Linked DNA regions of Homo sapiens: region 1 is linked to region 2. The links come from fine-mapping of genetic effects on gene expression. A gene starts in region 2. The other region holds a variant in brackets. All regions are shown on one strand. Distances are from middle to middle.

Region 1 (8,000 bases), 51 kb before region 2:
TTATGTGCTAAGTGTCCTATACGAACATGAATGTGGCCTCTTGGTTCCCTAGTCTCCTATTCGTTTGGGTGAGAGGAAAGAATTCAAAATGAGGCAACATTTATGAACTTTTTCTGAGCTTTCTCAATAAAAAGACAATATTTATAATCCAAATTTCATGACTGGCAAATTAAATATAAACATACAACTGATGTAAGAAGAAACACAAATAATAATCAGTTACAAGGGAAACTAGGGAAATGCAAATTAATACCCTTAATTAAATAAAATAAAAATACTATAAAGCACCCAATTCTATAGAGGTTGTGATAAAACCAGTAAATGTTTACTTTAAACTGGTATAATCCCTTTGGAAAGCCATATCAATATTCATAGCAAAAACTGTAACATTTATTTATTTTCCCCTTGTTCCAGAAAGGATTTAAGAAGTATAATAATAATGAAAAGATGCTTAGACCCTTTACCATGCGTAATCCTTCTCCCAGATTATACTACTCTAAGAGATTACTTCAACAGCAGTAGAAAGTTCTATGAAGTTTAGCTGTAGTGGAGGCCAGGATAATTACATTTAAAAAAGGAAGAAGAAAGCAAAGAAACCTGGAAGCGACCTAAATTTCTAACAAGGCGAACAGTTTACTAAAAAAGACAAATTAAAATTGCAGAGTACTATGCTGCCATTAAGTTTATAACCATGAAGATTATTCTAAATCCTTAGGAAATGGAACATGAAAGTGCTAACAGCAAATTTGCTAGTGTATAAAATATACTGATACGTAAAGATGCACTCCAACTTTGTAAGGAAATTTTTGGAAAAATAATGTTAACTTGTTATTAATACATATATTGAAAGTGGTTTAGTAGTTTTACAGAGAAAACATTATTTTGCTCATGTAAATAGAATATTTTATGGCTAGAAATCAGGAAGAAACATAAGTTCTGGATAATTAGTAATATTCTACAGACTGTTGGGGGGGAGTATAAAATCACATGATCAAAAAAGAAGTGTATGAGATCATGGGAGTGGTGCTACACAGCAGAAACACAAGATGTAATACATTGACTAGAACGTGAAATCTCATAAGCTACCTCAGCACTGCATATGCCTAGTCTAAAATTTCAGTGATTTCAGTGGCTGTTAAGAATAAAAAGCAAGTTCCAATATAAAATAAATCTGAATCATTTTTCAATGTGGTATATACAAAGAAATGAGTAAAAAGGAAGTAGCAAAATATAATAAATATGAATGAGTTCTTACGCAGGCAGTCAGAGTAATAGTTTAGTAACACTCAATGCAAAACATAAAGTAACATAATGCATCTCAAGGAATTCTCCTCATGCTTACAAAAAAGTAAATGCTTTACTGAACCTCAGTCCACAGTAAGGTACGTTAAAAAAAAAATGAATTCTAACAGAAACGTGTGTGACAACAAATATCATAGTTAAAAGCACCAAAACTACATAAAAAATAAGAAAACAAAATGGAAAATACTATGAACATATTAGTCTTTGTACTAAAAAATCTAGCAAATGATCATATTCACAGTTAACTACATTATCAATCCTAAAGCATAAAAACCTGACATCACAGCTAGACTCTGGATGACTCTCTTCACCAATGGCCTTACTGTGTTAGGAACTGAGTCATCACTATCTTCAAAAAATAAACTGTCCTCAGACTCATCGAGGACATTACTAATTCCACATTTTGAAAGAGATTGCACCACTGCCTCTTGTTTTACAGTATTCCATTACATTTTAATCCACCCACCTATGTGTGAAGTAAGAGTGTCACTTCGAAATCTTAAGCCTACATCCACCTGTACCACTCCTCACTCACAAGCTCCATAAGTGATGTATTGATAGAGAAACATATGTGACAGTTGGGCCTCCTGAAATTAGAGCTTGTGGACTCTCCTATGGGCCAATTCTCCATAGGATAAGTGTAACGGGGTCATATCAGAAGAACTGAGAACAGCCAGGTTTCCTTAACAGGCCTCATATGTTGCTTATTAATAATGTCATGCCTTTCTTATCATATGACCTTTCGGTTGTATCATATAAGTGTTCTCCACTCTTCCTGTCATCACTCCTTTACATTTTTCCTATAGAGACTATTTCTGCTGCCCTTGTTTTCTTCAAGTCCTTATTTTCTCAGTTGTTGGTAGGCCAGGATAATGTCGCATAGTGGTATTTAAAAGTCTATAAAATTAAGCATTTAATAGTATAGCAATGTCTCTGCTGCTTTTGACTCACTGGTTACAGCAGAAAGAAATTTAAGCCGAAAACGAAGGGAGAAAATGCAAATTCTTCATCTGATTGCCTGTGGGATCCATGCCTTGTTACTTTCGGTATTTCTGGATGTGAAATTGCTAACTATTTTGTGCTATCTGTTGCCATGCTCTGCGGCTGAGAAGCTGCATCTTTACTGCTTTCTGGTTGCTTGAGTCAGTTATACATGCAAATCGTCTTTTTCTTTTGTCTCTGTGAATGCTATTTACTGCAGCTTTGTTGTCTAGTGTATTAGTTTAGATTTTGAAACAATCACAAAGTTACATAAAAAGTCCCAAGTGCAGTACAAATAATTATTTTCCTGAACTATTTGAAAGTTAATTTGCAAATAAGATGTCCCAACGCCCTGAGAATACTTTAAATATTTCCTACGAGGATATTCTCTTACATAACCACAAAAGAACCATCAAAATGAGGAAGTTAACATGGATGCTTCACTAGTGTCTAATCCTAGACCCCATTTGAGTTTCACCAGTGTCCCATTAAAGTCCTTTACAGCCAAAGGACCCAGTTCAGAACATTGTATTTAATTGTCATGTCTGTGTAGTCTCCTTCAAGTTAGAACTCTTTTCTTCATCCTGATACTTTTGAAGATTACGGGCCAGTTATGTTTTAGAATGTTTCTCAATTTTGTTTTGTCTAACGTCTCCTGACTATTGGATTCAGATCGTGAAGTTCTGGCTGAGTAACAGAGAAGTGATGCTACGTTCTCATACCCTCTATCAGGCAGCCTAGAATTGTGATTTGTCCTATTACTGATAATGTTCACTTTGATCAGCTGCCAGGTTTTCCCACTATTAGGTTATTCTCTTTCACTCTGCAATTGCTAAGTATGGTGGGGGAGATACTCTGCAACTATGTACAGTCGGTAGTTGGTTCTAGTTCTGTTAGCAGGCAATAAGTAGTTAACATTCTACACCGAGTGTCACCAACACACTTACACTGTATACTGAGTAATTGCTCTTAGGGAAAATACAAGGTTAGGTTCCCGTGAGGCCCTGGTCACAATATTTTTGTCGACTGTTTAATACATAACCTTGTTTTATGTGTGTTTCTGTTTAAACACACCTTATCTGATATATATTGTTGATTCATGAACACTGAACTCATGGCCAATGGCACATCACTCATGCCTGAACAAAGCTTACATAACATGTATTCTCTCCAGAAGGCACGTCACAGCCTTCCTGCACTCAGGAGCAATAGCCAGCACTTCAGTACTATGCTTGGGGGCCATACTAAATGGCGAATCCTCAAAAAACTGCACAAAACTTTGAAAAACATGGCATGAAACAGACTGCAAGAAGGACATTGGCTCCCAGTGTGAGCGCTGAAATGAGAAGGCAGAGCACCACCTGTTTGACCTCAGCTGGTGACAATGCTGGGCAACTCAAATTTTTCACTGCTAAGCATGCCCAAGAATGACTGTGAAAATGCCAGTATTGGATTTGAGTCACAAACGAATTTTAGTGAGTAGGAAAATTTGCAAATAAGGAATCTGAGAATGATGAAGACTGACTGCAAATATTATGTTTCTGAATCACACTTACAATTTATTAATTAGGAATATTGGTATAAACTAGTGGATTCCTATTTTATTCAGCTGGTTATAATCTGTTAATATCAATATTTATTTTGATGCTCAAATTGTCCCAGATTTGGCCAATGGGAGCCCTTTAAGCCAGATTCCCTTTTCTTCTTTGAATACTTCCTTACTTTCTGGCACAAGAGGTTCCTTTTAGTAATGGAGAGCATTTAGAGACCAAGATCTAGAAACCAGCTGTGCTCACTGGAAACTAAGTACACTGATTGCTATAAAACACACACACACACACACACACACACACACACACACACACAAAATATGTACAGTTGTCCCTCGGTATCCAAAGGGGATTGGTTCTAGGACTCCCAAAGACACCAAAATCCATGGATGCTCAAGTCCCTCATATAAAATGGTGTAGTATTTGCATATAACCTATGCACATCCTCCTGTATACTTTAAATCACCTCTAGATTACTTTTTTTTGAGATGGAGTTTCACTTTTGTCACCCAGGTTGGAATGCAATGGCATGATCTCTGCTCACTGCAACCTCCGCCTCCCAGGTTCAAGTGATTCTCCTGCCTCAGCCTCCTGAGTAGCTGGGATTACAGGCACCTGCCACCACGTCTGGCCATTTTTTGTATTTTTAGTAGAGACAGGGTTTCACCATGTTGGCCAGGCTGGTCTCGAACTCCTGACCTCAGGTAATCCGCCCACTTCGGCCTCCCAAAATGCTGGGATTGCAGGCGTGAGCCACCACGCCTGGCCTCTAGATTATTTATTGATATCTAATACACTGTAAGTACTATAACTAGTTGTTATACTGTATTGTTTAGGGAGTAATGACAAGAAAAAAAAATCTATACATGTTCAGTACAGATGCAATAACCACCCACTGTTTTTTCTGAATATTT[TC/C]CATCTGCAGTTGGTTGAATTTGTAGAATGCAGAATCCGAAGATATGAAGGGCCACCTGTGTTGTTATTCATTACATTTACACTTATTTCTACATGTACCTATATGTTGGAAACCATGAGTTCACACCACTATCTCCTGTTCCAAAACACCACAGTGCTCACACTAATTTTCTCCTTTTTCAACTTTTGTAATTGACTTCTAAGATAACAAAAAAAACCTAGCACCCAGTATCCTTAATATATCTGCTGATTAGATCAACTCCCTGTAAGTAACTGGTCTTTTCTTGCTGTCTCCTCTTCTGCATATACCCCCAACCCACCCCTAGAGGACGTACAGCTCTGACATCCTGTACCAGATCTGCCCTTGGTGGGAATGAATGCCCTTTTCGCCACATTCTGACTTCATCAGCCTGCACCACGCCTCTGCCTCCTGCATGTGAATGAGTGACCTTCTCACCCTGCTCTGGACCCTGTGGCTCCCTGCCTCCTGCATGTGGATACCTACACTGCTCCGCACCACCTAATGTCCTTTGGACTGAATTGCTTCAGAAGGGTTGAACAACAAGGGGAAGGGCCACACAAGCAATTTCAACAGTTGATTTTTCTATTAAAATCTCCTTAGTATTCTTAGGTGTATTTTTAAAAATAGAGACCATATAGGCAATTCAGATCCTGCAGTTTGGCCAATGATTTTAAAACTGAGAAATCAGTATGCAGCAGAAGTATCATGTAAATGTCCTTTGACCTTCAAGCAAGTCAGTTACTTTATATCCTTCATAATTCTCCTTAAGTAGTTAATTCGGCTTGTTTTCAGTGTTCATTGCTTTACATGATCAGTCACACAGTTTCTGTGCTCAGTGGAGTCCTGCTCTAGCAGCTGATTGTAATGCATTTGCAGTCTCCTTCTGGCCTTGCATTTGTAATATTGGAACCTGGGTAGTTTTTGGCAGGGTGGTGGGAATGTGTGTGTGGGAATTGGCTTTGTTAGGATTGTAGGTATACGGGTAACTTTATGGCTTCTAAAATTTTTCTGTGATGTTATGTTTCCAGTATATATGTATGTATGTATGTAAGTATAAATAGGTAGATAAGGTTCCTGATTGTAAATGAGATCTTACTTTCTCTTTTCTAGGAAGAAAGCAGTTCAGATTATTTTGTTTTCTTCAAGCCATCAGAAATATGTCACCTTTCCTCCACATTTACATTAATATCTGTAAAGAGTGATTGTTGCTACTTTTTCTTTCAGAGGCTCTAGAACAGAGATTGCACACACGGCCACACTTCTTATGCTCATACCCATTACTGCATCTAGATGGAAGCAGACCTGGAAGAGGAAACACTGAACTAGACCATAAGCTGCTCGGAAGCAAGCACCATGCCTATTGACCGTCATGGCTCTGTCTCCAGGCTCATGAATGAATGGGTAGATAAATAAATACGTTATTGGCAAAGTGGCTTAGACATGCTATGATTTCCATCCCTCCCTATTTACAGATAGCATTCCAGTTATCTTATTTCCATTAAGAAAAATCCAAAACCCTCAATATGAAATCAGACTATTTCCATGAGAAATAGTAAACAGACTAGTCACCAACTATTTTAGGAATAAAAGATAACACACTACCTCTGTACTCGGTACACTCGAGTCCATGGAGGCACGAGGGCTAGGATCCGAGCCACCAATTCAACCAGGTCACTAGGAGAGTAACTCTTATATCTTCCTGATTTCCAAAGCTCATAAAGCCCGGTCCCACGAATCACCAGGGTAGGATAGAGTTTCAGCCCATCGGGACGAAAAGCAGGGTTCTCAAAAAACTCCTGTGAATAGAGAACAGAAAATGACTTCTCCATTAGTTATGCAGAGATCACCGAGGGTGAAATCTCAACCCCTGACAGCTTCTCTGGCACACCCAGTAGGCCCTGGGGCAGCCTTTGCTTCTGACCAGGTAGGGCGTACAGACAGAACAGAAACTCCTTGTTTCTGTAGTCTCACTGGGGCAAAGCAAGTGTGTGCTGGACTGCACTAGGCCCTCACCATTCCAGCTTGTCTCCTGCACAATCTCATCTCATGCCACCCCTCACCATCTGGCCTTTCCACTCCTGCAAAGGCAATTTCCTTTGCCTGGAAAGTTCATCAATTTTTCTTTATCTAGCTAATCTTCAGGTTTCAGTTTGAATGCCACTTCTTCAGAGAGGCCCCTCTGACTTTCAAATACTAGCTGTCCCACTTAAAAAAAATCCCACTGAACCCAGTATTACCTCTTTCTTATCATCACATGACAATCTATTCAATGTCTGCCTTCACCTCTAGAGTATACCTTTCTTTAATAATGGAATATACTTAATTGCTTACATTTCAAAAGTTGTGACAGAGATCATCTAGCTTACAAAATTTAAAATGTTTACTATAGGGCCCTTTAGAGGAAAAGTTTGCTGATCCCTGGATATGACTACTCTGTCCCTAAACCAACTGGCACCATTCCTATCCTGGGCTACACCTTGTCCATTTGTTATCTGGACACTGAGCAATAGATCTAACTCAACTACTTTTGGCAAGTCATTTCTTATACTACATCACCCCAGCTGGCTGCTTTCTTTCTTTATTTTGGGATGTAGCAATGAGACACCAGGCATTCTCCTTTCCATGACTTTGCACTGATAATTTGCTCTAATCTTGTTTTGCATAATATATTTTGGAGAAATGAAAGTGGACTCACAGTCCCCTCTCACTCCCACCTTGGTGGGAGTATCTACTCAGCTGGCAGGGCTCTATCTTGTAAACTGGAAAAATACTTTTTATCTTTGCCACATTAGTCTTCCAAAGCTCTTCATTGTTTAACTTGCTTTACAAAGAAATATAACAATAGACTTTTCCATCTCTCATTGACATCTGTCACGTTCTTAAATGCTGTATTCTTTATGTACTATTTAGTTTCAGAGATCTTCTTCTGTAATTGTGTGATTTTCCTGTAACATTTATATTTTAAAGAATCATCAGGTCTTTAATAAATATTCTGCAGCCATCCCACAAAGAGCACGTATGGAAGCCATTGTTCACCCAGTCTGAATCTACATTTGAACATGGGATTTAGAAAAGTATTTCTGGTGCTTGTATAATAAGTTTCGGAGACATACAGGCTGATACATTCCTTTGGAAAGAATGAAAATTGATTGGTTCTCAATTTTCAGTTACACTAGAGAATTTAAAAAAGTGTTTATTTTCTTTCCCTCCAAAACCACACTAAAGTAACA
Region 2 (16,855 bases):
TCAATCAGTTGTTTAATAACATCTCCTATAGTCAGCATCATCAGCTCAGCAGGGCTGAGATCTCCTGGAAAGTTAATATTCAACAATGTCAAAAATCGTATCATTCAATCAAGATTTTAAAATCTGATTTAGTAGCAGTTTTCCATCCGAAACCATACAAATATGCCAAATGAATAGCTCAAGTTCAGAAGATGCTAAATCTCTACTGTTTACAATTTGATCATATCTTTTGTATCTTTAAAACAAACGTGGCTTTACATATATATGGGAAAAGCTCCCTTTAGAAGCACATACTCTATGAGATTATTAAAAATAAATACAGGAAAGGATACAGGAGTAGAAACAATGTGAGGAGAAAGAACTTAATCACACAGGAAAGGACCAAAGTAATTCTCTTCCCTTTATCTCCAGAGGTGTAATTACTAATATGTGCATAATACTTTAGAGTTCATAAAGAACATTTAGATGCATGAATTCAGGTAATTCTCAGAACAGAGGTAGACAGAACAAGAATATGTGCCTGTTACATGAAGATGCTATCAAGGAGTAAAGTTGAAACTCAAACCCAGGTATCTGCCTAAGAATCTTAATGCATTTCTAAAATATTGTCTGTCCACCATCATGAACTTCTGGCAACTGGGGCTCTCGGTCTCATCCAAAGGCAACAGCAGAAGCTGACAGGTTCTTGTATGACGCCATCCACTCAAGCACAGTTCAAGGATTGGTTCAAGGATGGGCATATCTCTAAGCCAGGCCAATCTGAGCTCTTTTCTTCAAGGTAAAAAATGCCAGTCTTTTTCCAGGGACAAAAGCTGTGGGATATCAGCTTGGAAGCTGTCAGCAAGCAAGCTTCTCACCTGTAGAGCAGTGGTTCCCAACCTTTTTGATAAAAGGAACTGGTTTTATGGAAGATGATTTTTCCACAGACCAGGGGAGCAGGGTGGTTTTAGGATGATTCAAGTGCATTACATTTATTGTGCACTTTATTTTTATTACTGCATTGTTATATGTAATGAAATAATTATACAATTCACCATAACGAATTCTGTTCCCATAGAATCAGTGGGAACCCTGAGCTTGTTTTCCTGCAACTAGACACTCCCATCTGGGGGTGATGGGAGACAGTGACAGATCATCAGGCATTAGATTCTCATAAGGAGCACACAACCTAGACCCACCACATGCACGGTTCACAACAGGGTTCAGACTCCTTTGAGAATCTAATGCCACTGCTGATGTGACAGGAGGCAGAGCTTAGGCAGTAACATGAGTGATGGGAAGTGGCTGCAAATACTGATGAAGCTTCACTTGCTCGCCTGCTGCTCACCTTCTTCTGTCTGGCTCAGCTCCTAACAGGCCATGAACCGGTACTGGTCCGTGGCCCAGGGGGCTGAGGACTCACACTGCAGAGAAAGCTAAAACATAATGAAAGCGTGGATGGAAGGCCCTGGCAATTATGGAGCCCACACATTTACTTTATCTCATTTGAACCCTTACAGTAACACGGAGGGTAGGTACTGTTATCCCATTTTATAGATGTGAAAAATGAGGCTAAGGCAAGTTAACAAGCTATCGTAAACAGCAGAGCCAAGACTCAAATCCAGCTCTTTTCACCACAACTTCCATGCTTTTTTCACTGTAACACACTGCATCTAATTTAATGAGGCAAGGCTAACATATACACAACAATTTTTGAGAGAAATAAAGTCCATCTATACTCAAAGGCTAAATGCTTTCCAAACCATGTAACTCAGCACTTCCAGAGTTCTACAAAGGTGCCTCAGGGGCCATGCAACAGAGGTAGGACTGGTGGTGGTCATGGCAGAGGAAGGGAGAAGGGAAGAGGAAAATAAGGCATGGAGGAAAAAAAGGAGGAGGTCTCTTTATTTCCACCACAGCAGCTCTGCTTTCAGCTGTTTATATATTGAGGTTCTGTGTAAGAATTTATTTGGAGGGTAAAAGGGGATCGGCTGATAAGAACAGATAAGATTTGGAAACCACTTGTATAGCTCTTGAGTGTATCAAGAACTGGAAGAGTAAATGAGTAGGAAAAGACTTCATGAAGGAAATGGCACAGGGATCTTTAAAGATAGGGCAAGATTTGGACATGCAAAACAGAAGGCAATCCAGAAGAAATAATGTCAGGCATAGGAATTACCTATCTTTGTGTGAAACAGCACAGCCTAACTAAAATCCAGCTTTCTAACAGGGTGTAATAAAGAACAGATTACAGGGGACCCTGGCCACTAGGCAAAGGCATTGAAATGGAATGCAACAGACAGTGAAGAATTGCATATTCTCAACTTTGGAAATAAAAAGTTGAAAGTAACGTTTAAGGAAGGTAAGAATATTATCGGTACAAAGAATGATTCAGAAAGTGAAAAAGAATACATATAATATGGATACTACTCAAATGGCTCTTGAAAGGCAACATTGTTTTAAAAAACCCACAAAATCTAAGACAGGATCCAGTCCCAATGCCTACTGGCTGTGTGGTAACGGAAAAGATCGACAATTTTTTTTCTTTTTCTTTTTCTTTTTGAGACAGAGTCTTGCTCGGTCACCCAGGCTGGAGTGCAGTGGTGCGATCTCGGCTCACTGCAACCTCCACCTCCCAGGTTCAAGTGATTCTCCCGCCTCTGCCTCAGCCTCAGCCTCAGCCTCCCAAGTAGCTGGGATTAGATTACAGGCACCTGCCACCACGCCCGGCTAATTTTTGTGTTTTTAGTAGAGACAGGGTTTCACCACGTTGGTCAGGCTGGTCTCCAATTCCTGACCTCAAGTGATCCACCCGCCTTGGCCTCCCAAAGTGCTGGGATTACCGGCATGAGCCACCGCGCCTGGCCAAGATCAACAACTTTTGAGTGCCCATTTCCTTGTCTGTAAAATTGGGGTAATACATCCAAATTTCACAAAACCATTCTAAGACTCAAATAAATAATGTATATGAAAGCTGAAATACCATTCAAATATTAGTTAGTGATGAAGGTGGGTTAGGAGGTTGGCGGCCAGAATGAAGAGGAATAAACTATATCAAGAAGTAATTTCTAAGTAAGAATCAACATGACTTGGTGACAGAAGAAACTAAAAGAATCCTGGTAGATTGAGAAGGAGCAAGTTAGAGTGAGATAACAAATTAATTTAGGGCATGCAAATATGACAAGACTTAATCTAAGGTAACTTGGACACTTAGAATTGTTGCTTGGAAGAAAGAAAAATAACAGTTAATGTCAAGAAGCATAGGGATTAACGATGTATTTATTTTTCATTTTATGTTTTTTGAGGTCACAGATACAGCCTGACCAGCCAGCTCCATATCTAAGTATAATTTTGGTCTGGGAAAGTTACTTAACTCTTTGAATCTCAGCTTCTTCATCTGTAAAATGGAAATGATACCGACTTCAAAATACAAGCTCAATAAATGGTAGCTATTATTCTGACAACAATTACCATGATTAGACCAGCTGGTCAAATGAAATAGGAACAGAACCTGTGAGATACAGAAATAGGAACAGAACCTGTGAGAGAATATTTCAAATTTGAATCCGTCCTGTTGAAAAACCAAAGGTGGAATTGTTCATTGCTAACTCATGATGTAATAAAAATGGGAATAATTGCATGCACAACTCTTACACTGAATCCAAGGATAATTAAGGTTTTTTTAATATCTTAAAATAAGGCTTTAAAAGAAACTCTCTAACACGTCAAATGTGTCGTGAAACAAATCTTAACAAATGAAAAGTCCTACAACCCGTTAAATCGACGTTAACTCCTCGGAGGGCATATATTGGAATAATGGTTTCCCTGCCATTCAAACAAGACACCACGTGACTGCCAAAGAGGAAGAGAGGAAGGGTAGGGTGCTTCAAAAAGCAAAACAGGAAAAACGAGAAGGCTCGGGGACCAGAATGGACACACTGACCCTAGGTGGCGGGGCGACTGGACTGGGTAGCGGATTCTCGCGGTAAAAGTTCGGTTCAGCATTTGATTGCCTGGGCGTTCGCCCCTTTCGGACCACCCCTTTCCCCCATCTCCTTCCCCTTTCGCACCTTTCCGCTTCTGCCTCATTTCTGCGCCGCCGTAGCAGAGCCACCAGAGATAAAAATGCAGCCACAAACTCAGACCACGGGGAAAGCTGACAGCCACAAAACAATCCCGCCTGTCGTAAAATGTCGGTCAATGTATCGTAAAGCTCTTCCCGGAAGCCGACGTGCACAAAGCCACGCCCCGCCCCGTGTTGCAACTAACAGGGTAGCAGGCGGCCCGTGAGGCCCCTAGGCTGCGATCCTGCCCCGGGTCTCAGGGATGGAGGATGGGAACGTCTGAACGGAGTGGCATCTTGGGGTTAGAAAGCTCGACCTGGGCAGTACAGCTATGGGACAGAGTTCCTGGATAGAGGCTGCGCCAGGAAGCCTAAGTGAAAGGGTGGAAGTGGATGGTCTCTCATGGGGGGGAGTGGGAGCCCAGGGTCGTCACATCCGGGGAGGGTGGGTGGGAACGCGAATGGGCGAGACCACGGAGGAGGAACCCTCCCATGTTGTGGAAACTAACTGAGGGCCTGGAAGAGACCAGGCGGGAATCGAGTAAGAATCCGAGGTGCAGGCTTTGGGACCAGGTGGTCACCTTGGTCTTAGATGAATGGCACATATGATCGGTAACCATCGTGAAAGCTGTGGATGTCTCTTGTGGAAGGAAAATAACATCTCGGGACCCTAAACTCTGCCAAAGAAAAAAGTTAAGCTTAGGGCCGGGCGCAGTGGCTCACACATGTAATACTAGCACTATGCCCATCTCAGGAGGCCAAGGCCAGCAGATCATCTGAGGTCTGGCATTCAAGACCACCCTGGTCAACATGGTGAAACCCTGTCTCTACTAAAAATACAAAAATTAGCCAGGCGTGGTGGTGCACGCCTGTAATCCCAGCTACTTGGGAGGCTAAGGCAGGAGAATCTCTTGAACCCGGAAGTGGAGGTTGCAGTGAGTGGAGATCATTCTCTGTTGTCCAGCCTAGACGACAGAGCGAGACCCTGTCTCAACAACAACAACAACAACAAAAAGTTAAGCTTGTGAACTGAGTCACGCAAAAACTGCCTTCCTTCTGTTCCTAAACAGCTGCAAAGACAGAAGCCCACATATCTCCCTAGGTGGCCTCCCAGAGGAGTTGCTCACAGGGAAATTCCTTGTGAGTGGCAGAGTCTTTACCTTACAACACTTCTGTTGAATTCCACCCTGACCATGCAAATTTACAGTAGGTAGGGGACAAGGACAAGACTAGAAATCACCCTTCAGTCCACCCCAAGAAAAATGCATATTTGACTCCTTCCTCTATGTTTACTTTGTCTTCTGTAAAAGGCAGATTTACTGAGTGTGAAATGAATGCATAGTTGTTCCTCTTTCCCCTTCTGTCTGCTCTTTCCCTTTAAATATTGAAGTCCTCAAAACCCTCTTTGGAAAAACCACAGGCCACAGATTCCATGATAACTTATGTCTCTTTTTCCTGGGTGTGTCCTCAACCTTGGCAGAATAAACCTCCAGACTGAGACCTGTCTCAGACACTGTTTGGTTTACGTTCTCCAGAAAAATACACAGGCACAAAATTTTGCAAAATTTGGAGGCAGGACTTGGGATGTTTTCCTGAAACCCATCTATGATCTCCTTTGTCCATGGGCTGGAGATTAAGAACCTCTCCCATTAATAAAGACAGGAATATGTACCCTACTAGAATTGAGGCAACAACGAGGCTTTGACCCCACTATGACACTGAAACTGGCCTTGCTAAGCTTTGTAACTTCCCAGCCTGCCAAGTTCAGTGGTATTTGTCTGACCTCATTGTCATCCTATACCAATGAACATAAGTTCTCCTCTGTAAACCGAAAATAATTCTCAGCCCAGGGCATTCCAAAGTTAAACTGAAAAACTAGCTCAGGCCATGATGGGAAGTGGGGTTGGACATGCCTCCTTATTCCCTCCTCCTTTTTAGAATTCAGGAGCTGCTAACCAGTGTTAACATCAACACAGAGACCTTAAGGCTGATAGAGCACAGAACCGACTCTTAAAGTCTGATAAGAAACATTTACGGCCGGGCGCGGTGGCTCATGCCTGTAATCCCAGCACTTTGGGAGGCCGAGGTGGGCGGATCACAAGGTCAGGAGATCAAGACCATCCTGGCTAACATGATGAAACCCCGTCTCCACTAAAAATACAAAAAATTAGCCGGGCGTGGTGGTGGGCCCCTGTAGTCCCAGCTACTTGGGAGGCTGAGGCAGGAGAATGGCGTGAACCCGGGAGGCAGAGCTTGCAGTGAGCCGAGATTGCACCACTGCACTCCAGCCTGGGCGACACAGTGAGACTCCGGCTCAAAAAAAAAAAAAAAAAAAAGGAAACATTTACAATCTATTCTCTCTGAAGCCTGCTACCTGGAGGCTTCCTCTGCATGATAAAACCTTAGTCTCCACAACTCTGTGTCTTAACCCAGACATTCCTTTCTGTTCATTTCAGGTCTATAGATAATAACTCTTTCAACCAATTGCCAGTCAGAGAAAACTGAATCTGCCTGTGACCTGAAAGTGTTGCCCCCTGACCCCACATCAATGCTTTGAGTTGTCCCACCTTTCTGGTTGTTCTCTGTGGGATATGCGTGAGGGGAGAAGAAAAGACACATACACAATACCTTTAAGGGTAAACGACCTTTATCCCATGTAAATGGCAATGCAGATATAATAAGCAAATTGCAATGGGAAGGGTAGAAGGGAAAGTATATGTGTATACACACACACACACACACACACACACACACACACCCACCCATCAGACTATGGAGGATTTATCACAAGACCAAGAAGCAACAGCCTGGGTTCCAGACTTGGACACTACACTCACCAGACTATGGAGGATTCACCACCAGACCGGGAAGCAACATCCTGGGCTCCAGAGTTGGGCACTACACTCACCAGACTATGGAGGATTCACCACCAGACCAGGAAGCAACAGCCTGGGCTCCAGAGTTGGCCACTCCTCCTTGCACAGATGAGGATAGGTCTCCTGAAGCTTCGGCTGGGCCTGGGACCCTAGCTCTTTTTGTAACAAGTTGTTTGGCATGAGGCCCAGTCACAAGGGCCCTTCACAACCAGGCTCAAGGAACACAAAAAGGTCAACTTGTTTTTGCTATTGTCTATTGTTTTTCAATAACTAATGTATAGGAATAGATTGAAATAGAGATTTCTCTGAAACAGCGCTGGATGAAAGCCTCAAGGGACTCACAAAACTTGTTCCAGGACTTGGTGACTATTGTTTGTGTCCAGGTTCAATTGAATTCAGATTTAATATTTAACTTTTCCTCCATGCTGGACCAAACCAATATACATCTTACATGTAGTAATGTCTTATAACTCCCTAAAATGTATAAAATCAAGCTGTAACCTGACCACCTTGGACACATGTTCTCAGGATCCCCTGGGGCTCTGTCACAGACCATGTGAGGTAGGAAGTGGGACTCTGTTCTGGAGGCAGAGTTTGGACACTGGATCAAGTTGAGGACTAGCTGAAACAGGGCAGGGGTGGAAGCAACTTTCCATAAGATGCCCACCAGTATGCCATGTCAGTTTACTATTGCCGTGGCAACACCTGAACATTACCCTCCCCTTTCCATGGCAATGACCTGATGACCTGGAAGTTACCATCCTCATTCTTGACATTTCTGCGTAAATTGCCCCTTAATTTGAATACAGTTAAAAGTGGGTATAAATATGACTGCAGAACTGCCTCTGAGCTGCTCTTCTGGGCACTGCCTGTGAGTAGCCCTGCTCGGCAAGGAGCAGTCCCTCTGCTGCAGCTGTGCACTGCTGCTTCAATGCAAGTTGCTATTTAACACCATCAGCTCACCCTTGAATTGTTTCCTGGGCAAAGCCAAGAACCCTCCCAGGCAAAGCCCCAATTTTGGAGCTTGCCTGTCTTGCCTCAGTTGGTCAATCATGGCTCAGAATAAATCTCTTCAAGTATTTTACAGAGTTTGACTCTTTTTGTCAACTCTTCCATGAACATCTTTTATGACAGGGCCCTCCAACTCTCTTGGTTTCTCTTCTCTTTCTTTTGTGAACTCTGTCTCTGCCTCACCTCAGAATACTAGTGTTCCATGGGGGTCACTCAGCCTTGTCTCTCCAAGGTGATCCCCAGAGCACCACGTGTTTGCTCCCAGGTTTCCAGTCCAACCCCAACTTTTCCCCTATTTGATATCTTGTTAGATTTGGGTGTCTAATAGGCATCTCAAACTTAACATGTCCCAAACAGAACTCTATTATTACTCCAGATCTGCTCTTCCTTATCTAATGGCACCATCCTCTACCTCTTCCCTGTTTTATCTCAGAGAGGGGAGGGAGATAGGTGGTTAAAGGTATAATTTTAAATAGGGGTTACAGTAGGCCTTATTGACAATGTGATATTTGAGCTAATACTTGATGTGTAGATATGTGGGAAAGAGTATTTCTGGCTAAGATAATGGTTAGTGCAAAGGTCCTAGGTGAAGGTCAGGCGCAGTGGCTCACGCCTGTAATCCCAGCACTTTGGGAGGCTGAGGCAGGCAGATCACAAGGTCAAGAGATCAAGACCATCCTGGCCAACATGGTGAAACCCTGTCTCTACTGAAAATACAAAAATTAGCTGGGCATGGTGGCACGCGCCTGCACTCCCAGCTACGCGGGAGGCTGAGGCAGGAGAATTGGGAGGTGGCAGTTGCAGTGAGCCTAGATCTCACACCACTGCACTCTAGCCTGGTGACAGAGCGAGACTCCATCTCAAAAAAGAAAAAAAGTCCTAGGTGAGAGGATGTCTGGGGTGTTCAAGGAGACTGAGGAGGCTGACATCACGGGAGCAGTGGGTGAGGCAATGTGAAAGAGAGGTCAGAGGAGTGGCGCATGGGACAGGGGGCAGTGCAGCTCATGTAACACCTTGTGGGCCATTGAAAAGCCTTTGGCTTTTACCCTAATTGAGATGGGGAGCCACTGGTGTTTTTAGCAGAGAATTGAATGGATCTGATCTGTAATTTAAAAGCATGTCTATTTGCTGCATTGAGAATAGACTGTGGGAGGGGGTTGGTGTGGAAGTGGGGAGATCAGGTGGGTGGCGGTTACCATAGCCAGGCCAATGATTCCCAAACTTTGCTGCAATTGGAATCACCTGGAGAGCAGTGAAAAATTCCCAGTGCCCAGATTACATCCCACACCTATTAAATCAGAATATCAAGGGGTGGGAGTCAGGCATTAGCATGTTTAAAAGATCCTGGGTTATTCCAACGTGCAGCAAAACTTAGGAACCACTGAATGAGGCCAGAGATTATTGAGACTCAAATCGGGGTAGTCAGCAGTGAAGGTGGTGAGAAGTGTTCAGATTCTGAATATAATTTGAAGATTTCAACAAGACTTTTTGACAGATCAGATGTGGAATATGAAAGGCAGACAGCAACATCAAATGTGACACCAAAGCTTTTTGACCAAGGGACTGGAAAAATGTAGTTATCATTAGATGAAATGGAGAAAATTAGGTGGAGAGGTGTTTCAAGGGACTGGCGGGGATTGGTTTGAACTTGTATTTTCGGATGACTAGTGAACAGGAAGACACGAAAGAGGTTGACACTGGATATCAGTCGAGAGCCATCGGTATGTGAACGAAATTGAAAGCTACGAAACAGGGTGGCTGTGGAAAGGAAAGAGACCGAAGATGAAGCCTTGGGGTATTTTATTATTAACAGGTTGAGAAGCGAGGGAATAACCAGTGAAGGAGACTGAGGAGCACTTCCAGGGAGATGGGATGAAAACTAGGGGAGTGGTTATCTGAAAGCCAAGTGTAGGAGGTTTGTCAAACAGGAGGGAATGATCAACCAGGTCAAATGCTCCTGATGGCTCAAGAAAGATAAAGGTTGAAAATTGACCAGGATCATTGTGGACTTTGACAAGAACAGCTTTAATGGGATGGGAAGGGTGAAGGCTTGACTGGAATAGGTTTATATTAGCTTGAGAGGAAAGGAATTTGAGACAGTAAGTAGAGACAACTCTTTTGAGGAGTTGTGGGGTTTTGTTTGTTTTTTTGGAGACAGGGTCTTGCTCTGTCACCCAGGCTGGAGTGCAGTGGTACAATCACAGCTCACTGCAGCCTCGACCTCCCAGGCTCAAGTGATCCTTCCATCTCAGCCCCTCAAGTAGCTGGGACTATAGGCATGCACCACCATGCCTGGCTAATTTTTATTTTTATTTTTTGTAGAAACAGGGGTTTCCTTATGTTGCCCAGACTGGTCTTGAACTCCTGGGTTCAAGTGATCCTCCTGCCTCAGCCTCCCAAAGTGCTGACACCATGCCCAGCCTAGGAGTTTTGTCATAAAGAAGTGCAGAGAAATATACTAATACCTGGCAGGGAAATGGAGGTCCAGGGAGTGTTTGTTAAGGTGGAATGAATGACATCAAATCTGTTCACAGATGGGAATAATCCAGTGGAGAGTGAAAGTTTGGTGAATTAGAGAAGAGGAGGAAGTACTCTACATGGTTCTTCAGTTAGAGAGAGGGATGGAATCTGGTGCACAGAGAAGGGATTGGCCTTTAATGGGTGCATGGATAGTTCATCTAGCAACAGGCTGGAGGGCAGAGCACCGGATAGGTGGTTGGGGGTGATGATGAGGCTCTGTGGACGGTCTCATTGCTTCAGTGTTTTCAGTGAGCTCAATGGAAATTCAGCCTGAGAGAATGGAGAAACATCTAACAGGCCTAGCATTCAGGCGTCCAATAGCAGGTGCCAAGGACTACCATAAAGAACCCCAGAGGCTGGACCCAGTGGCTTACACCTGTAATCCCAACACTTTGGGAGGCCAAGATGGGAGGATCGCTTGAGCTCAGGAGTTTGAGTTCAGCCTGGGTAACATAAGGAGACCTCATCTCTACTAAAGTTTTGTTTTGTTTTTGTTTTTCTTTTTTTGTTTTTTGTTTTTTTAAGCTAAGTGTGGTGGCACATGCCTGTAGTCCCAGCTGCTTGGGAGGCTGAGGTGGGAGGATCACTTGAGCCCAGGAGGTTGAGGTTGCAGTGAGCCGTGATAACGCCACTACACTTCAGCCTGGGTGACAGAGTGAGACCCTGTCTAAAACAAACAAACAAAAACAAGCAAACAAATAAAGGAACTCAGGAAGCTTTATTTTTTTATTTTTTGAGATGGAGTCTCCCTTTGTCGCCCAGGCTGGAGTGCAGTGGCCTGATCTTGGCTCACTGCAACCTCTGCCTCCCATGTTCAAGCAATTCTCCTGCCTCAGCCTCCTGAGTAGCTGGGACTACAGGCACACACTGCCATGACCGGCTAGATTTTGTATTTTTAGTAGAGACAGGGTTTCACCATGTTGGCTAGGCTGGTCTCAAGCTCCTGACTTCAGGTGATCTGTCCACCTCGGCCTCCCAAAATGCAGGGATCACAGGTGTGAGCCACTGGGCCTTGCCCCAGGAAGCTTTAAAAATGCTCAAAATTAATTTTAATAATTAAGTAATTTAGTAGCATTTGTGGTTAACTGTTGAAGCTAAGAAATAGCCAGTAGAGGGAGAGCTGAGCACACGTGACATGAATGTAAGCGTAAGGTGTGATTTTGCCTAGAGAGATCAGTATAAGACTCAGCATCCAGGATGGCATTTGTGCTGACTTTCTTTGTTCTGAACTTTAGCCTGGTGTTTCTGTGGTTTTCTTATGGAGGAGGGACGTCATCTTGCCAAAAGTTCAAAGCAGTTTTTAAGACCACAGTCTAAACATTTATCTTCAATTCTTTCCCTGTTCTGACCTCTTTACCTTCTGAATCCCCTCTTCAGACTAAATACATACCTAGAGTACTGAGGGTTGTCTTGGTAATGACTGAGTTGGCCTTTAAAGGTAACATACACCCTTGGCCCAGCACAGTAGCTCATACCTGTAATCCCAGCACTTTGGGAGGCCAAGGTGGGCGGATCATATGAGATCAGGAGTTCGAGACCAGCCTGGCAAACATGGTGAAACCCTGTCTCTACTAAAATTAAAAAAAAAAAAAGTCAGGCATGGTGACGCACCCCTGTAGTCCCAGCTACTCAGGAGGCTGAGGCAGGAAAATCTCTTGAACCCGGAAGACGGAGGTTGCAGTGAGCTGAGACGGCGCCACTGCACTCTAGCCTGGGTGACAGAGCAAGACTGTGTCTCACAAAAAAAAAAAAAAGGTAACACACACCCTGAAGCTGAGGGTTCAAGGGACAACTTTTTCCCTGTATGTGATGTGATGGTTTGGGTTGCCAGACACAGCAAAGTGGAGTGGGTTTTATTTTCTTCTCTCCTGGACAGCACTTTCAAATTTTTGTTTTCTGGGTTTATTAAAAATATGAATTTAAAATTAGATGGGCGTGATGGAGCATGACCATGGTCCCAGCTACCCAGGAGGCTGAGGTGGGAGGATGGCTTGAGCCTGGGAGGTCGAGGCTGCTGTGAGCTATGATCACGCCACTGCACTCCAGGCTGGGTGACAGAGCAAGACCTTGTCTCTAACTAAATAAAGACATAAAAATATACGGATTTAAAATTTAAGTTCCAGAAAGAGGTGTAAAGCGGTATATCACTCATTTCTACACTCAAACAATCCAATGTTGTTTTATTTTTGGCAAATGTTATTTTTGGTGAATTTTAAGACTTTGGGTCAAGAATAACTTTATATTTATTATCTCATATCCTCCATCTCTCCCAGTCATGTCTTATAGTTGGGTGTCGGGGAGCCAGTGCTTTGTCTGTCTTGGAACTGGGGCATTTTTCCTGTCTGCTCCAGTGAACCAGTCATCTGAATATTGTTCACCCTCAGAGAAAAGATGCTGTGGAAGGATGCAGTGATGCACTTGGAAAGGAAAAAAGACATCTGTCTACTTGTAGGAACATGGCAGAGAAGGGTGCAAGATCCCCGTTTCATGTACCATTTAGATTTTTTTTTTTTTCGAGATGTAGTCTTGCTCCATCATCCAGGTTGGAGTGCAGTGGCGCGATCTTGGCTCACTGCAACCTCCACCTCCCAGGCTCAAGTGATTCTCTTGCTTCAGCCTCCTGAGTAGCTGGGACTACAGGGTTCTGCCACCACGCCTGGCTGATTTTTTTTTTTTTTTTGTATTTTTAGTAGAGTCAAGGTTTCACCATGTTGGCCAGGCTGCTGTTGTACTCCTGACCTCAAGTGATCTGCCTGCCTCAGCCTCCCAAAGTGCTGGGATTACAGGAGTGAGCCACCGTGCCTGGTGAATTTAGATTTAAGTGAAAGAAGACAGAATAAATCAGTATCTGTGGGAGGAGACCATGGTAAATAGCTCCCTGATGGCAAGTTGGTTTCACTTCTGCTGTGTAAACGTGGCTTTGTGATTGTGGCCCAAAGGGCTACGTACCCCAGCTGGTTCCAAATACCTGAACCAAGGAGAAGCTGCCACCATCTCCTCTGTGGACTCCTGTAACCAAACCAGAACTTTTTTTTTTTTTTTCTGTTCAGTGACATCTGGTAAGTTGTTTCTTTTATGTAATTTGTACTGTAACTTGTGGTTGATTTTTTAAAAATGGACCTTAATTTTTAGAACAGTTTTGAGTTTACAGGAATATTGAGAAGATAGTTTAGAGCATTCCCATGTAATTCCCACCCAACTTCCCCATTATCTTGTATTAGTGTGGTACATTTGTTACAACTGATGAACCGATACTGATACGTTATTCTTAAACTAAAGTCTGTGCTTGATTCAGATTCTTGGTTTTTATCTAACGTCTGCTTTCTACTGTGGCATCCTATCAGGATAGCACATTATATTTAGTTATGTTCCCTTAGGCTCCTCTTAGCTGTAGCGTTGTTTCTCAGACTTTCCTTGTTTTTGATGAATATGGCAGTTTTGAGGAGTACTGGTTGGGTATTTTGTAGGCTTCTCCTATTGGCATTTGTCTGATGTTTTTCTCATTATTAGACTGGAGTTATGGGTTTTGGGGAAGGAGTCCCAGAGTTAAAGTGCTGTTCTCATCACATCATATCAAGGGATAATATTGTCAACATGATTTAGGACTGTTGGTGTTGACCTTGACCACCTGGTAGAGGCAGCGCTTGTCTGGTTTCTCTGCTATAAGGTGATCCTTTCCCTGCTCCAATCTCCGCCGTGTTCTCTTTGGAAAGAAGCTGCTATGCACAGCACACACTTAAGGAGCAGGGAGTTTTATTCTACCTCCTTGAGGATGGAGTAGCTACGTAAATTATTTGGAATTCTTCTGTATATGGGACATTTGTCTCTTCTCTCTCCTTTGATTTTCTTAAAGCAAGTTATTTCTTGAGGGAAAGTGAATTTTACTTTTCTGTTTGCTTAAGTGAATTTTGGGGGTTTGGTTTGTTTGTTTTTGAGGCTTCGGTCTGTTACCCAGGCTGGAGTGCAGTGGTATGAACATGGCTCACTGTAATCTTCACCTTCTGGGCTCAAGTAATCCTCCTGCCTCAGCCTCCTGAATAACTGGGACTACAGATACATGCTGCCATGCCCAGCTAATTAAAAAAAAAATTGTAGAGATGAGGGTCTCACTTTGTTGCCAAGGCTGGTCTCAAGCTCCTGGGCCCAAGGGATCCCCTCTCCTCTCAGCCTCCCAAAGTGCTGGGATTACAGGCATGAGCCACCATGCTCAGGCTGTTTAAGTGAATTTTAAGGCTATGTAAAAAGGCCAGTGGGCTAGAAATGGGGAGAATCAGGTTTTAGTTTGAATTTTACAGAACAGTGTGATCTTAGGCAAGTCATTAATCATTCCTCCCAAAAGAAAACAGCTATTGCAGAAATTGCTGGCAGGTGTATGAATTCCTGATAAGGAGGGAAGTGTCATCTTATGCCTCATTAGCTTTAACAAGCTTGGGAGAGCAATATGAGAAGATTCAAATTCGTTTCGCTAGAATCTGCTAAAGTACGTTATGAAAATATCTGCTTATTTTGCTTACCTCTTTACCTAGGGAAGAAAGATGGAGAAAAACATGTCATCCTAAAGCCTCCCTTCTACTACGACTGCTTCTGGTGGCCACATTTCTAATTCTGAACACATTAGCCGATGTGTTAATGCTGAAAACATACCTCTTTTCCTTTAGAGATTTGGAGGCCCTTGTTTCACTTTTGCTTCTGAGCTAATGTGTTTAAATTGCTGCCTTGGGACATCCCTAGTTTGGAAGAGCAGTGCAGTGGCCAACGAGGTGGTTAGGAAATGTTGCCAACACCAAAGTTACTTAAACCTAAACCCAAACTCAAAGAGAAAGGAAATAAATTCTAAATTTCATCAACATTCTATCATTTCATTAACAGTCTCCTCCTCTTCCTTCTTTCATTCTTCAGCTCACCTTCTTGTGAGAGCAAGAAAAAACTTGACCAAAGATTGTTTTTTTTTTTTTTGAGATGGAGTCTCACTCTGTTGCCCAGGCTGGAGTGCAGTGGCATGATCTCAGCTCACTGCAACCTCCGCCTCCCGGGTTCAAGCGATTCCTCTGCCTTAGCCTCCTGAGTAGCTGGGACTACAGGCATGTGCCACAACGGCTGGCTAATTTTTTGTATTTTTAGTAGAGACAGAGTTTCACCGAGTTAGCCAGGATGGTCTCAAACTCCTGACCTCATGATCTGCCCGGCTCAGCCTCCCAAAATGTTGGGATTACAGGTGTGATCCACTGCACCCAGCTGATCGAAGATTCTTTAAGGAAGATGGTAGAGCATCCTCAATGTGTTTGATCAATAGGGACAAGAACGGGAGTCAGAATCTCAGCTAAGGTGGCATCTGTTCCCCAAAGACTAACAGACGTGGCCTGGATGACACTAGTACTGATTTCTAGTTTAACTACCTTCATAAAATATTCAAAAAATAACATTTGTACAGATGCATAAGTGCCTGCAGAGCAATTTTGCATTCATTATCACATTTAATTCTCACAACGAACTCTTTTTTATTTTTTATTTTTTTGACGTGGAGTCTCGCTCTGTTGCCCAGGCTGGAGTGCAGTGGTGCGATCTCAACTCACTGCAACCTCTGTTTCCTGGCTTCAAGTGACTCTCCTGCCTCAGTCTCCCAAGCAGCTGGAATTACAGGCATGCTGCACCATGCCCAGGTAATTTTTGTATTTTTAGTAGAGACAGGGTTTCACCATGTTGACCAGGCTGGTCTCGAACTCCTGACCTCAAGTGATCGGCCCACCTTGGCCTCCCAAGGTGCTAGAATTACAGGCATGAGCCACCATGCCTGGCCAATGAATTCTTGATACAGGTATTTTTTTTAAAACCAATTCTATCCTATATGTGGAGAAATAGAGGCTCAGAGAGATCAGGTGATTTGCTCTGTGTTGCATTGAAGATTGGGAGCAGGAGCAAAAATCCAGGCATTCTGACTCCAAATCCCTAATAATTTTTGCTCCACCATTCACATCTGGAATATGGAAGCCCTTTGTTTGCAGATACTGTGACCACATTGTTTCCTGCTGTACCCCCAGTATCTAGAACAGTGCCTGGTGCATCATAGGCACTCACAAATATTTGTTGAATGAATGGATGGATAAATAAAATAGTAAATATAATTTCTGCTATTCTTGATCTTACCATCTAAGATATATATCTATATCTAGATCTAGATAGATCTATCTAGATATAGATACAAAAAATTATATCTATCATCATTCATTCAACAAATTATTTAGTGCTTGCTGTGTACCAAGTACTTCCCATATTTATTAAAAGTAGAGAGTAAACCAATGTTAATGACCAAAATGCCCCTTTGAGAAACTTTGCTAATTTAAGCATTTAAATTTAAGTAAGTAAATAGTGTTGGCAAGGGTTAATGATGCGAGGCAAGGTAGGGTGA

Evidence for each region.
Region 1: its variant is fine-mapped to the expression of ELP3 in blood mononuclear cells (TOPMed, PIP above 0.99).

What each region holds. Positions count from the first base shown.
Region 1 is chr8:28,136,264-28,144,263 of GRCh38, reverse strand. It overlaps ELP3 (elongator acetyltransferase complex subunit 3), which reads right to left. Exons shown (of 15, transcript NM_018091.6): 10 at 6,373-6,566. Among named protein-coding and RNA genes, the nearest start is that of ELP3, 47 kb to the right of the region's middle. The variant TC/C (reference allele first, on the strand shown) is at 4,748.
Region 2 is chr8:28,080,428-28,097,282 of GRCh38, reverse strand. It overlaps ELP3 (elongator acetyltransferase complex subunit 3), which reads right to left and starts at 4,144. Exons shown (of 15, transcript NM_018091.6): 1 at 4,050-4,144; 2 at 1-64. The coding sequence starts at 4,068. It overlaps NUGGC (nuclear GTPase, germinal center associated), which reads left to right and starts at 13,347. Exons shown (of 19, transcript NM_001010906.2): 1 at 13,347-13,508. RefSeq lists enhancers at 4,469-4,518, 4,010-4,563.